2 linked regions of the Homo sapiens genome follow. The protein of the gene in region 2 purifies or fractionates together with the protein of the main gene of each other region. This does not show direct contact. Each region holds a gene or a part of one and is shown on either strand. Other genes may lie near its edges.

What was found. Proteins that work in one complex are often made in the same cells at the same time.
Region 1: the proteins of ARHGEF35 (region 2) and ALAD purify together in Homo sapiens (co-immunoprecipitation; 3 studies listed by BioGRID and IntAct, with this or other methods). This does not show direct contact.

What each region holds. Positions count from the first base shown.
Region 1 is NC_000009.12:113,391,283-113,398,309, reverse strand, and holds part of ALAD (delta-aminolevulinic acid dehydratase), read left to right. Parts: exon of another isoform or gene 1-232; intron 233-1,035; exon of another isoform or gene 1,036-1,264; intron 1,265-1,854; exon of another isoform or gene 1,855-2,852; coding exon of another isoform or gene 2,853-2,903; intron 2,904-4,672; exon of another isoform or gene 4,673-4,675; coding exon of another isoform or gene 4,676-4,750; coding exon 4,751-4,863; intron 4,864-5,974; coding exon of another isoform or gene 5,975-6,140; coding exon 6,141-6,191; intron 6,192-6,686; coding exon 6,687-6,783; intron 6,784-7,027.
Region 2 is NC_000007.14:144,192,832-144,199,930, reverse strand, and holds the start of ARHGEF35 (rho guanine nucleotide exchange factor 35), read left to right. Parts: upstream 1-4,097; 5' UTR 4,098-4,393; exon of another isoform or gene 4,394-4,610; intron 4,611-7,099.

The DNA.
Region 1 (7,027 bases), on a different chromosome or scaffold from region 2:
GACTAGACTCTAGAATGGCATTAAGCAAGTCACTGAACCGCTCAGAGCCTCTGTTTCCTTATCACTAAAAGTTAGGACAATTCTTGCAATGAAATGAGATACTACTACCAAGTACTTCAGTGCTGTGCCCAGCACAGAACGAATACACTCAGTATGTTTTTCTTTTGTTTCTTCTGTCTCTCCAGCACCCAAAGCAGAAACAGTATGGGCAGAGAGACGCCTACTGAATCAGGTGTTTATCAGTATTATGAAATACAGTATATAAAACCCAGCATTTGGAGTCCAGAACAAATTCAAATTCTGGCTCAGTCACTAAGTAGCTATGTGGTCTTGGGCAACTGGCTTACATTTTGGTAATTCTCTCAATATGCAAAAATATTCTCTCGGCCAGGTGCGGTGGCTCACGCCTGTAATCCCAGCACTTTGGGAGGCAGAGGCGGGCGGATCACTTGAAGTCAGGAGTTTGAGACCAGCCTGGCCAACATGGCGAAACCCTGTCTCTACTAAAAATACAAAAATTAGCCAAGCATGGTCATGCATGCCTGTAGTCCCATCTATTTGGGAGGCTGAGGCAGGAGAATCACTTGAACCCAGGAGGTGGAGGTTGCAGTGAGCCGAGATCGAACCACTGCACTCCAGCTTGGGTGACAGAGCCAGACTCTGTCTCAAAAAAAAAAAAAAAAAAAAAAGAAAAGGAAAAAAAACTCCTGGCAGACATGAGAGCAAAATCGAGTACGAAATGGGCAGCTGGGACCTCATATCTACTGAATAATTGTCTGTTTGGAGGTTGAGACATGACTGGGGAGGCCTGGCCTGCCCCTGTGTTAGGTGATGGGGCTGGCCCACCCAGGGGTGTGGCAGCAGGGCTGGCCCCTGTGTGACTTGTGATAACCCCACCCTACCAAGGAGGAAGACTGGATAAAATGGGCCCCTGAGATGGCTGAAGGCAGCTAAAGGGGCCTAAGAGACTATGGGGAGAAGGGCAGCCAGTTCCTAGGCAGCCCTGCCCCACTGTTTCTGATAAGCAGGAGGCAGTTGTTCCCTCAGCCTCCTGAAAGCAATGAGGAGTTGAGGCCACGGGAATGCAGCTTTGGATTCCAGAAGCCAAGGACCTGTTACAAAGGTGGTTTTCTGGGAAGCAAATTAGAGGGATTAGACCTGGCTTCGACATCTGACTTGACTCCAACCTACCAAAGGATCTCCCAGTTCACCTGGGAGTTAACACACCAGGGTTCTAGTCCTTTTGCTCGCTGTGTGGCTTTGGGTAAGTCCTTGCCCCTCTCTGGACCTTGAGGTCCCATTCATACAAAAAGCAGTTGGACTCAGGCCTGCCAGCCCCCATTTTTGTGGCTCTTCCCCGCCCCTCCCCATCCTTTGGCTATGGGATAGTCTCCCAGGCACCTCCAAAAGGAAGTGTCTAAAACAGAGCTCTCCACCTCCTCTCCAAGCCCAGCTCCCCACTGCCCTCTTCCTGCCCTGTCCCTGTCTCCGCTGCCCTTTAGATCAGGCAGGCAGGCAGGCCTAGAGCATCCGCCCTGAGACACTGCCTGTTGGCTGCCTTAAGACGCCCCTTCCTTCTCTGCCCGCAGCCTCCCCAGCCTCTGCATTCCTCTGCTTCCTGTCTGCTCTGCTCAGCCTGCAGGATTGATCTTCCCAAAGCCAGGTGTCAACCAGGCCACTAACCCTACCCACTGCTCAGAAATCTTCCCACAGCCTCAGCCTGGCCCCCTCTTATCCATCCCCTCCATACACACTTGCCTCAGCTCCTCAAAACAGTCCACAGCCATCCTCCTTCCCCACCTTTGCCCCTTTCTTCCCTTCCTAAGGAAATATTGGCCCCCTTCTCTCCACCAGGCTGAACCCACTCATCCTGCAAAACCAAGTTCAACGCCCTGTCATTTTCTTTTTTTTTTTTTTTTTTGAGATGGAGTCTCACACTGTCGCCCAGGCTAGAGTGCAATGGGTGCACTCTCGGCTCACTGCAACCTCTGCCTCCTAGGTTCAATCGATTCTTCTGCCTCAGCCTCCAGAGGAACTCTGACTACAGGTGCACACCACCACACCCAGCTAATTTTTGTATTTTTATTTTTATTTCTATTTATTTATTTATTGTGAGATGGAGTTTCTCTCTTGTTGCCCATGCTGGAGTGCAATGGCACGATCTCGGCTCATTGCAACCTCCGCCTCCCAAGTTCAAAGGATTCTCCTATCTCAGCTTCTGAAGTAGCTGGGATTACAGGCATGTGCCACCACACCCGGCTAATTTTTTTTTATTTTTAGTAGAGATGGGGTTTCACCATGTTGGTCAGGCTGGTCTCAAACTCCTGACCTCAAGTGATCCACCCACCTCGGCCTCCCAAAGTGCTGGGATTACAGGCGTGAGCCACCGTGCCTGGCCTAATTTTTGTATTTTTAGTAGAGACGGAGTTTCACCACATTGGCCAGCCTGGTCTCAAACTCCAGACCTCAAGTGATCCACCCGCCTCAGCCTCCCAAAGTGCTGGGGTTACAGGTGTGAGCCACTACGCCTGGCGCCTGTCTTCTTCTAATATGCCTCTTCTGACCTCCTCACTCCCATTGGAGCCATGGCTCACTTCTGGTCAGGCTCCATGCACTCAATCAGCCCTGCCTGCCAGGACTGTAGTGCCCACTTGATGAGAAATCACCTGTGAAAATGCCAGGCATGGTCTGGCACACAGTAGGTGCTCAAGAAACAAATGTTAATGCCCCAGCTTCCTTCTGTCTTGTGTCCACTAATTTGGCATTTGGAGCATATTTTTGTACTTCACGTAATTAAATATTTACTGTGTGCCAAGGTCAGTGTGTGACAGAGCACTGTAGGGGAGGCAAAAATGAACCAACTCTGGACCTTGCCCTGCAGAAGCTCTGTCTACTGGCATGAGGTAAGACAGGTCCACAGATAACTTACATAAGAGAGACTGCAATCTGGACAAGACAGCCTCAGTGGGAGAGGGAAGGAGAACCCTGTAGATTTGGGTGCGGGGAGGCTGTGGGGAGAGCACAGCCTTTCAGGTAAAGGGACAAGGTTAGGAAAGCAAGAAGGTGTAGCTTGTGCTCGTGGAGCCCAGGAAACTCCTTGGGCTAGAAAAGATTTGGTGGCACTCTATACAGTGTATGTGTCTGTCTGTCTATCTAACATGAATGGTACTATTTTCTCCTATTGGTGTGCATTGTACCTAACAAAAAATCCATGTCCCAAGTACTTTTCTCTTTTCTTTCTTTCTTTTTTTTTTTGGAATGAAGTCTTGCTCTGTCGCCCAGGCTGGAGTGAAGTGGCGCTATCTCGGCTTACTGCAACCTCCTCCTCCTGGATTCAAGCAGTTCTCCTGCCTCAGCCTCCCCAGTAGCTGGGATTACAGGCACGCACCACCACGCCCAGCTAATTTTTTTTGTATTTTTAGTAGAGGTGGGGTTTAACTGTGTTGGCCAGGCTGGTCTCGAACTCCTGACCTCAAGTGATCTGCCCATCTCAGCCTCCCAAAGTGCTGAGATTATAGGTGTGAGCCGCCATGCCCGGCCAACAGTACTTTTCTCTAGAGGTAGAATTGCAGGGGATTTTTCTCTTTTTGCTTATCTGCACTTTTCTAAAAGTTCTGCCATGAACACGGGCATTTTTTGTGGAATAAACAAAGTTTAAATGTTGGCTAGATCAGTGCTTCTTTATGCATAAGGAAGGATTAGTTCTTTTTTTTCTATTTCCAATTTATTGATTCTTTGATAAAATGCAATGCAATAAAATTATTATTTTTTTTTAGAGACGTCTCCCTCTCTCACCCAGGCTGGAGTGCAGTGGTGCAATCATAGCTTACTGCAACCTTGAACTCCTGGGCTCAAGCGATCCTCTTGCTTTAGCCTCCTGAGTAGCTGGGACTACAGGTGTGGACCACCACACCTGGCTGATTTTTAAACTTTTTGTAGATACAGGGTCTCGCCATGTTGCCCAGGCTGGTCTCGAACTCTTGGGCTCAAGCCATCCTGCCACCTCAGCCTCCCAAAGTGCCGGGATTACAGGCGTGAGCCACCATGCCCAGCTAGAAAATTACTTTTTTGGCTAGGCACCGTGGCTCACGCCTGTAATCCCGGCACTTTGGGAGGCTGAGGCAGGCAGATTGCTTGAGCCCAGGAGTTCGAGACCATCCTGGGAAGCATGGCAAGACCTCCATCTCTACAAAAAATTCGAAAATTAGCTGGATGTTGTGGTGCACACCTGCAGTCCCAGCTACTTGGGAGGCTGAGTTGGGAGAAACAGTTGAGCCCGGGAGGTCAAGGCTGCAGTGAGTCGAGATTGCACCACTGCACTCCAGCCTGGGCGACAGAGACCCTGTGTGAAAAAAAAAAAAAGAAGAGAATTTTTTTTAAACAGTCATTGCTTGCTCAGATGTTTACTTTAAAAGATAATAATGAACAAGAAGCAGTCACATAAAATACAAGCCCAAATTTTATATCATTAGATTCTGATTGTCATGAAAGTTTCTAAAGACTTACTTTCATTTCTCAACTTACCTTGTTGACCAGCAGGGATTGGTGAACCATGCTGTGAGTAGCATTGGGCTAGAGAGAGGGGAGGCAGGAATCTAGAAGAGCTGTTTTCCAGATGTGACCATCTCCTGAGGACAGGGACCATGTCTCATGTGCCACCCATCACCCCCCACAGACAGAGCCTGCAGCCAATGCCCCAGGAGCCCTCGGTTCCAACCAACTGATGCCCCTGTGCCCACTGGCCCACGCCATGCAGCCCCAGTCCGTTCTGCACAGCGGCTACTTCCACCCACTACTTCGGGCCTGGCAGACAGCCACCACCACCCTCAATGCCTCCAACCTCATCTACCCCATCTTTGTCACGTGAGTCTCCAAGAATGGGCCAGGCCTCTGCTCTGCTGGTTGGGGTTGGGGTTGGGGAGGGAGTGTTGACTGGAGCGGGCATCAGTATGGCTGGGGGTGGCAAAGTGAGCTGTCAGCTTGAAATTCAAGGCACTGGAAGCAGGCTACTTGGATTAAGGACAGGAATCTTAGGAACAAAACAAACTTTGAAAGAACTCATTCATCCCATTTGGAAAATTAGAAGAATAACCCTTGCCTGCCATCCTGAGCTCTTGCAGTAAGACAGAAGCTGAGAAGGTGCTCTGTACATTGTAAAGTGCTATGTACCTGTAAGAGATGGCAGTCATTGAGGCTGGGCACGGTGGCTCACGCCTGTAATCCCAGCACTTTGGGAGGCTGAGGCAGGCGGATCACGAGGTCAGGAGATCGAGACCATCCTGGCTAATATGGTGAAACCCTGTCTCTACTAAAAACACAAAGAAATTAGCCAGGCGTGGTGGCGGGTGCCTGTAGTCCCAGCTACTTGGGAGGCTGAGGCAGGAGAATGGCGTGAACCCGGGAGGCGGAGCTTGCAGTGAGCCGAGATTGCACCACTTCACTCCAGCCTGGGCGACGGAGCCAGACTCCATCTCAAAAAAAAAAAAAAAAAAAAGAGATGGCAATCGTGATTGTTAATAATAATGCAGACATTTACTGAGTACTTACTATCTACCAGGTACTATGCTAAGCACCTACACACATTATCTCATTCAATTCTGAGAGCATTTGTATGAAGAAGGAGTAGCTATCCTCTAGAACATCAGCTCCATGAGGGCAGGGATGTTTGTCTATTTTGTTCACTGTTGTATCATCAGGGCCTAGAACAGTACTTGGCACATAATAAGTACTCAATAAATATTTGTTGAATGAATGAATTAACCACGCATGATATAGATGAAGGCCTAAGGCTCAAAGAGATGATAGAACTTGGCCACGGTCACCCAGGCAGTAAGTGGCTGGGATAGAAAGCAAGGACCTGCCAAATTCAGAGTCCAAGTTCTTAACCACTTAATTCCTTCCTGTAATTACCGTTCTTTTAGTACAGTTGCTAGTGTTGTCACTGTTATTCTTGTTGTTCCTATTATTATTTCAGGCCCTGGGCTTGGCCAGGCAGGGAAGCCAGACACTGGATCCCATCCTCCTCCCACCATCTCCACTTCCATATTTCTTTCCTGCTTCCCAACCATCCCTCTCAGTCGCCCCCGCACCACTGGCCCTTCCCACAGCTACCAATCCATATCCCACCCCCGCTCTTGCAGGGATGTTCCTGATGACATACAGCCTATCACCAGCCTCCCAGGAGTGGCCAGGTAGGAGACGTGGAGTTGGGGGGCCAGCGGGTGGTGGAGGGAGAGATTCCACAGGTGGAAGTGCTGGGAGGCAGAAGCAGACCTAGGAAGTAGAAGATGCGGACAGACAGACATTAGCTCAGTAGAGGAAAGGGTTTCCCCGGGGCCAGAGCTGTTCCACAGTGGAAGGGGCAGCCCCATAAAGTAAAGAGCTACCCATCACCCGAGACGTCGTGGCAGAGGCTGTTGCAGAAGGGAGCTGAACTGCAGATGGGAGTTCAAAAAGAGGGCCTCGAAGGAGCCTTCCACAGCCGAATTCCGGAGCTCTGCTACTCAGGGCCTCAGTCTTCCCTCCTATTTAGTGGATGCATCCCTGCCCCTTCTGTCCTGGGGGCTTGAGCCCTCCTGGTGCCATATGCAGCTTGGTTTCTAACAGAGGCACACAGTGTGGTGGGGTCCGGAGGACCGTTGCCTGGGACCTGCCTTCCTTCAACCCCTCTACCCACACCCACACAGGTATGGTGTGAAGCGGCTGGAAGAGATGCTGAGGCCCTTGGTGGAAGAGGGCCTACGCTGTGTCTTGATCTTTGGCGTCCCCAGCAGAGTTCCCAAGGTGAAGAATCAAAGGAAGGGCTAAGAAGGGAGGTTGCGCTCACGCCCGTAATCCCAGCACTTTGGGAGGCCAAAGTGGGTGGATCACTTGAGCCCAGGATTTTGAGACCAGCCTGGACAACATGGCAAAACCCATCTCTACAAAAAATACAAAAGTTAGCTGGGTGTGGGGGTATGTGCCTGTAGTCCCAGCTACTCGGGAGGTGGAGAGGTGGGAGGATTGCTTGAGCCCAGAAAGTCGAGGC
Region 2 (7,099 bases):
GTGAAACCCCATCTCTACTAAAAACACAAAATTAGCCAGGCTTGGTGGTGCGCACCTGTAATCCCAGCTACTGGGGAGGCTGAGGCAAGAGAATCACTTGAACCTAGGAGGCAGAGGTTGCAGTGAGCCTAGATCGTGCCACTGCACTCCAGCCTGGGCTGGACAGAGCAAGACTCCATCTCTGAAAAATAAAATAAAATAAAATAAAACAAAAAAACAGAATAGAAGAAGATAGCTAAGAACCACAGTGGTCAAGCCAGCCTGGCTTCAACAGAGATGAATGGAGAGACCACGGTCAGCCCCATTAACAGAAGAACTGGGGCCAGGAACGGTGGCTCATGCCTATAATCCCAGCACTTTGGGAGGCCGAGGCAGGCAGATCATGAGGTCAGGAGTTCGAGACCAGCCTGACCAATATGGTGAAACCCCATCTCTACTAAACATACAAAAATTAGCCGGGTGTGGCAGCACATGCCTGTCATCCCAGCTACTCAGGAGGCTGAGGCAGGAGAAACGCTTGAACCCAGGAGGCAGAGGTAGCCATGAGCCGAGATCACGCCATTGCACTCCAGCCTGGCGACAGAGCGAGACTCCATCTCAAAAAAAAGAAGAACTGAGTTCAAAATCAGTTCGAAAGGTTCAATGTTGGGTCACAGGATCAGGCAAAAAGCAGAGGCAGAAAGGCCTTAGGAGTGTTCCAAGAACTAGCACTGGACCAGCTGAGAGTCAGAGAGAGTTCACCACGTGGGAACAATGCAGCCAGTCATGTGGGATAGTGGCACCATGACAGTATCTAGTCAGGACAATGACAGCCCCAGGGATAATGCTGATGAGTTCCTGCTTCAAAAAAGGTCATTGTCATTCCTTTAGTCCTGATACCTAGAACTATACGGGATTGTTCCCTGCCTCTCCCCAAGCCCCATAACTTGATCTTAAAGGCATTATTGTCAATTAAAGTAGTCCCAAGTTCCAGAAGCTATTTTTATTCAGCCTCGTCTAATAGGGCTTTCATTTTAAAATAGCTTTATTTTGAATCTATTTACTGTTCCCAGCCCCTATCACTTTGTTCTTATAAATATATTCATTCCACATGCATCACTGACAGGCACTGCTAGGAAAGGAAACTAACCCATCTTGACCACCTTTACACATCAGGTACTTATACTAAGGTGATTTCTATATATTACAGTATTGAATCACCACAACAATCCAGTGACGTAGGTATCATTACATATTATTATCCCCAATTAAGACATTAGGGAAATGAAACGTAAGAAGATTCAGAGAAAGCACAGGAAGGTGAATATGCCCAAGATTTCACATTAAGTAAATGGAATGCAGGATTCAAATTTACCCCTGTCTGAATCTAAATCTCATTCTCTTTCCATGGCATCATTCTCTCTCCTCTCTAGGCCTTTATAGAGGAAATATAGGCCCAAATAAAATATCAAAATCTCAGGATGGGATGACAGGCTTGATTAAGAAACCCAGTCACCAAGACCACGCAGCAAGAAATGAAAAAGAAAAAAAATAATAAAATGCTGAGAACCATAGTCTGCAAAGTGAAAGGAAGAATACCTGGGAGAGCTAGAGTGACCTCCACATGCAAATACACCCTGCAGACAGGAACAGGCTTGATGGGAAGAGCAAACTCCCTAAATGGTCGGTTGTAACTTTCCTACTAGTTGAAAAGTCAGGAAAAGCCTTGTGTGCTAACTCTCTGGACAAGCGCACAAGAATCCAGGGTTGTGACTTCAAAAAAAAATATGCTGACAAGTCAGAGCTGGCAGAACAAGAGGAGGTCGAGTTGATGAGAAGAGAGAGAGAGAGAGAGAGCACTGTAATCAAGGAGAACCAACTGAAGCTGGAGGGAAGCAGAAAGAATAGCCAGGCTGGTTCAGGAGGCAGTTCTGGTACCTCTGACCCCATTGCCCACCCCCAGTAGGCAGCATGAAATATGCCAGAGGTCAACAATTTTTTTTTTTGTATTTTTTAGACAGAGTCTCACTCTGTCACCCAGGCTGGAGTGCAGTGGTGCAATCTCAGCTCACTGCAGCCTCTGCCTCCTGGGTTCAAGCAATTCTCCTGCCTCAGCCTCCCAAGTAGCTGGGAATACAGGTGCCCACCACCAAGCCCAGCTAATTTTTGTATTTTCAGTAGAGAAGGGGTTTCGCCATGTTTGGCCAGGCTGGCCTCAAATTCCTGAACTCAGGTGATCCACCGGCCAAGGCCTCCCAATGTGCTGGGATTGCAGTTGTGAGCCACCGCACCCGACCCAGAGGTCAACAGCTTCTGCCCTAGATCAGAAGTTTACTCACTTTGCTCACTCGGTATAAATCAAGGACCCTCTCATACCTGGGAATGAGTTTTGTATTCCAGCCTAGAAGTAGAGCCAGTCCCAGTTTGAACTTTTTGCCTTTCTGTACTCCCAGTTCTTACCCTTTTGCTGAGCCTAGGACACATGCAAGGCCTGCCCTTCTTAATCCAGATTTTTGAGTCTTAATCCCAATTTTTCCTATAGTTTCCCATACACTCCATGGCAGCTTAGAGTAGGCTGAAAACTGCTGAACTGTTTAAGACTTAATCCTTCAGAGTAACATGGCAGAAGTAGCACACTTTTTTAACATAAAGCTGTTCAGGACTCTATTACAGAAGAGGCTATACTTCCTTAATTACATTCTATTCTACAGCCACCTCAAAATAACTAGTGAACACGTTCAACCAGGATCATTGGCAACAGCCAATGGGCACAGTGATCTAGAAATGGTCTAGCCAAGCTGTTTGGGCTGTAGACCATGGCATTCCTAAGAGCTAAATAGGCAAGGAGTCCATTAATATTTCACTTGACTTATGTCACCATGGAAACCCCTGGAGTAGTGAATGGCTTTGGGGAGTGGTCAGATTCAACCAAAAATAACAGAAATCTCTGTCCCCCAGGTAAAGGATTCCTACTTTGTGTGTGTCTGTGTGTGCACACAGGCACACTCGAGAGACTTTTGGCATTCTTTGAAGTCACTGGAGGGGCACAGAGATAAACCCACTCAGCCTTGGCCTCCAAGACTAACAGAACAAAACGTTTCCCTGAAAGAATAAAAAAAAAATACAGGCATAAGAAAACACACAAACATGGGCTTAGAGATTTAAATACACACACACACACACACACACACACACACACACACAGGCCCTAGAAGGAACATACACCCTGAGATACGCACTCATTCTAAAATAAACTCGGGAATACAGAAGGACACGGGCATGTCCTTTCAGAGAGGCACACTTCTAGGCCCTAAGTAGGAGAAGGAAGAGGGGAGAGGAAGAGGCAGGGAGAGGGACAGGGAGGGGGGAGGAGGGAGGGAGAGAGAGAGAGAAACGAAGAAGGGGGCGGAGGAGGAGATGGAGGAGACACTCTTTATTCTATAGGAGGAGACATCACGGAAGAGAAATCAACACTGAGGCCTTGGCCGGGCGCGGTGGCTCACGCCTGTAATCCCAGCACTTTGGGAGGCCGAGGCGGGTGCATCACCTGAGGTCAGGAGTTTCCAGACCAGCCTGGCCAACATGGCGAAACCCGGCCTCTACTAAAAAATACAAAAATTAGCCGGGCATGGTGGCGCGGACCTGTAATCCCAGCTACTCGGGAGGCTGAGGCAGGAGAATCTCTTGAACCCGGAGACGGAGGTTGCAGTGAGCCGAGATCGCGCCATTGCACTCCAGCCTGGGCAACAGGGCGAGACTCCGTCTCAGAAAAAACAACAACAACAACAACAACGAACAAACCAAAAACCAATGAGGCCTGAAGATAAAGACACATGTACAACCACGGATGTCAGACTTCCAGAGGCACGGCCAAGGCAAAAGACAAACACATACAGACTGCAGCAGGCAGACAGGCCGGTTCCAGAGTCAGGCTCCGGTGAAGCTCCGAAGAAACAAACACGCAGGGAGATTTCGGAGGCGTCCGAGGACACCGTGGGGCCCGGCTGGCTCCCTCTGTCTCTGTGCGCGCCCCTTCCCCGGGTCACCCCGCCTGCGCCCGACCTGCGCCCGCGCACCGCGCCCTCGGGGCTCCCTGGGACAGCCCGCGGCCTGGCCCGTGCGCCCGGGCTCCCCTCTCCGCCGGCCCGGCACTTCCCAGCTCTGACGCGGGAGCTTCTTTCACACCAATGGGGCTCGCGCGCGGAGGGGCCCTGCCCCTCCTCCGGGAAGGTGTGTCCCTGTTTCCTCACCTGAAACTTCCTAGGAGAACCCGATCCCTCCCTCCCGTCGGGCGGCCAGGGGCGGGCCGCGGGTGGGGCGGCCGGGCCTGCGCTGGGGACGGCTCTGGGGACTGCGGCCGGCGCCGGGACCTGGAGGGGACGCTGGGGCCGAAGCAGCATGTGACACCGACCAGGTGGGTGCCCTCCTCCCGTCTCGGCCCTGGGCTCCCGGCGGCTGTGGAGCCCGGCGGAGGTGGGGCAGGGACAGGAAGGAAGAGGAAGCCAGGCCTTTCCCAGGGATCAGCCCCCGCTGGGTCCGGGGCGCAGGCTCCGGAAATGGGGGGGCTGGGCCCGCAGGCAGGGCTCGGGGTGTGTGGCTGAGGACCCTGGTGGGGAAGAGGAGAGGAACTAGAGGAAATGTTGTTGCCTACAAGTTTGCTTCCGGTCGGGTCCCGCCTAGGAAATGGGCACCCTGCCCCCAGACGTTCCCCGGGCCAATAATCAGGGCTCTTTCTTCAAAGTAGGCGCCCTGGGGAAAGCTAAGCCATATCAGAAGGAATAACTGAGATTCCCTTTCTAGGCTGTTCCTTACCTGGAGAGGTTTTATCGGCTCCTTTTCCTTAACCAGGCCGGGGCCTTTCCTTATGTATCTCCATAGGTATTTGCATACTGTGTGAGTCTATGTGTAGCTTCTCTCCGTGTTAACCAAAGCTCCGTAACCTGGAACAGTGAATCCTGCCCTGCCCCTCACCCCAGTTCCCTACATATGGGGAGCCTCCTAAAGCTTGATGTGAATCACAACGTTGCATTCTTAGCAAGGTGGAAAGAAGTTATTTAGAGTTGGGGGCTGAGGTAGGCGTTGGGGTGCTAGAATGCGGACGCAGAGCTCTAGAACCCCTGAGCATCTTTTGCAGTTGCCTTCCGGCAAGACTACCGGAGGAGAGCCAGTTGTGATACTACGTCATTTCCAGATCTCAGTCCCTTTCTTCCCTTCCTGGATCTTGGGTTCCAAAGACAGATTTGCCCTCCTGTCTACCTAGAAGTGAACTCTGGCCAGGACTCTTGTCTGGTTGAGAGAGAAGGGTGTGTCAAACAGATGAGAGAGGGTGGTTTTCCTTTCGAGCTTCCTCCCTAGCTTGCTCCCCTACTGCACTCCACTGTCTGGCCTTGCATCTTGGGCCTAATCCAGAGGTCCCAGCTCCAGCTAAAAAGCTCTTGATGTGGCCTCTGTCTCAGACGTCTTGTTTTATCCACATTTGGAGCATGAAGAAGTTCCTGGCATAGGCCTTAGCAAAATGGGTGTCATTTGTTAACCAATCTGTGGGCCTAAAAGTGAAGCCATGGCTAGTGAAGGAGTCCTGGGGAGCTGGGAAGATGGGATGAGGGCGTGTCAGTTCTGGGTGAGACTGATATGCAGGAGGAATGTATGTCATGGTCCTAGTGGGGAGGAGAGAGAAATCAGGAGGAGTGCAAAGGAATCCCTCTCATCAACAGAATATAGTGATTCTCAATAGAGAGAAGAGTGTTCATATATTAGAGGTCCTGAGAGTGTATCAGTGCCCTTAACGCGGTCTGTCTGAGGTTCCGTGGCCACGTTACACGTGGTGTCTGTGGGATAGACAGGAATACGTCATTTGTGGTGTCTGGAGAGGTCAGTCGCTATGTGGTATGGACAGGAATGGAGTCACTCGTAGGGTCTTGGGTTCAACGGGAGCAGCATTACTCAAGTGTCAGTGGTGTAGACAAACAGGTGACCAACAGCTCTAGTGTAGACAGGGGCTGGGTCACTCACAGTGTCTGTGGAGTAAGCAGGAGCCGATCACTTATAGTGCCTGCAAGGTAGACTGGAACAAAGTCACCCTCAAGGTCTATGTTAATACACAAACACGTCACTCACACTAATGTTATCTGTGTGGATGCCACCAGGACCACAGATGAGATTGTAGAGTGTAAGTCAGCATTGACACTAATAATGTTCTTATATAAACTATCTGGTCTATAAGGCAGTTGGTGTGACATTTTCAGACATTAGAGAATAGATAAATGTGTATTACAGCTTTCACTGGCATGGTGGGACTTTCCTGCAATGGATAGAACACACATTGTAGTAGTCAGTGGTCCAGAAAGCTACCCCTGTTTTGATATCTTTGTAGTATTGAGGGCAGTGATGTCAAACAGTGAATAAAGTTATATATCTATGTGGTGATCTTATTTTAACCTCAATATTATTTTAGTGATTTGTAAGTCAGAATATTTGAAATCAACCTTGCTAGAAAATCCAGGAAGCATGGTCCTCAAAAATATATATATGGCACTGAGTCTCAGTTCAAAGATTTGGCAGTTTGATTGGGGAGGGGTTGTATCCTTGAAATACAGTGTTGTTTCTAGTGACTAGAAATAGACAAGAGCTAAGGTGTTGGTGGGGGGGCTCTAGGGAAGATAGTGAGCTCTGTCACACATTATGTTAAAGGGATGACTTGAAGCTTTGCCTCTCAAGAAGTCACACGTGGGTGAGGTTATGTGGATGCAGAATGTCTGTGGTCTGAAGCAAGGCCGTATCCCCATAATCCCATGCCCTGGCTTTGCCTGTACACAGATAAACAGTGATTATTCACCCTCAGTGGAGAAGGAGATGAGGATGTTTGCACTCTAACGTAATGAGCATTGCAAAAAACTCTCTCCTGATGCCTTTACGTGAGTAAGACCATGATTTACAGATTTCCTTTCACTTTGTCACATTTTAGCTTTGTCATGCCTGATTGCAACGGGATCACTGAGATAGGATCAAGTATAGGGAACGTGGGGTATGTTCTCCCTTTGCGGTAACTGGTGGCTGAGCAGGTGACCACTGATATTTCCAAATGAAAAAAGACAGTTAGAAACGGTGTCAATGGGCTTGC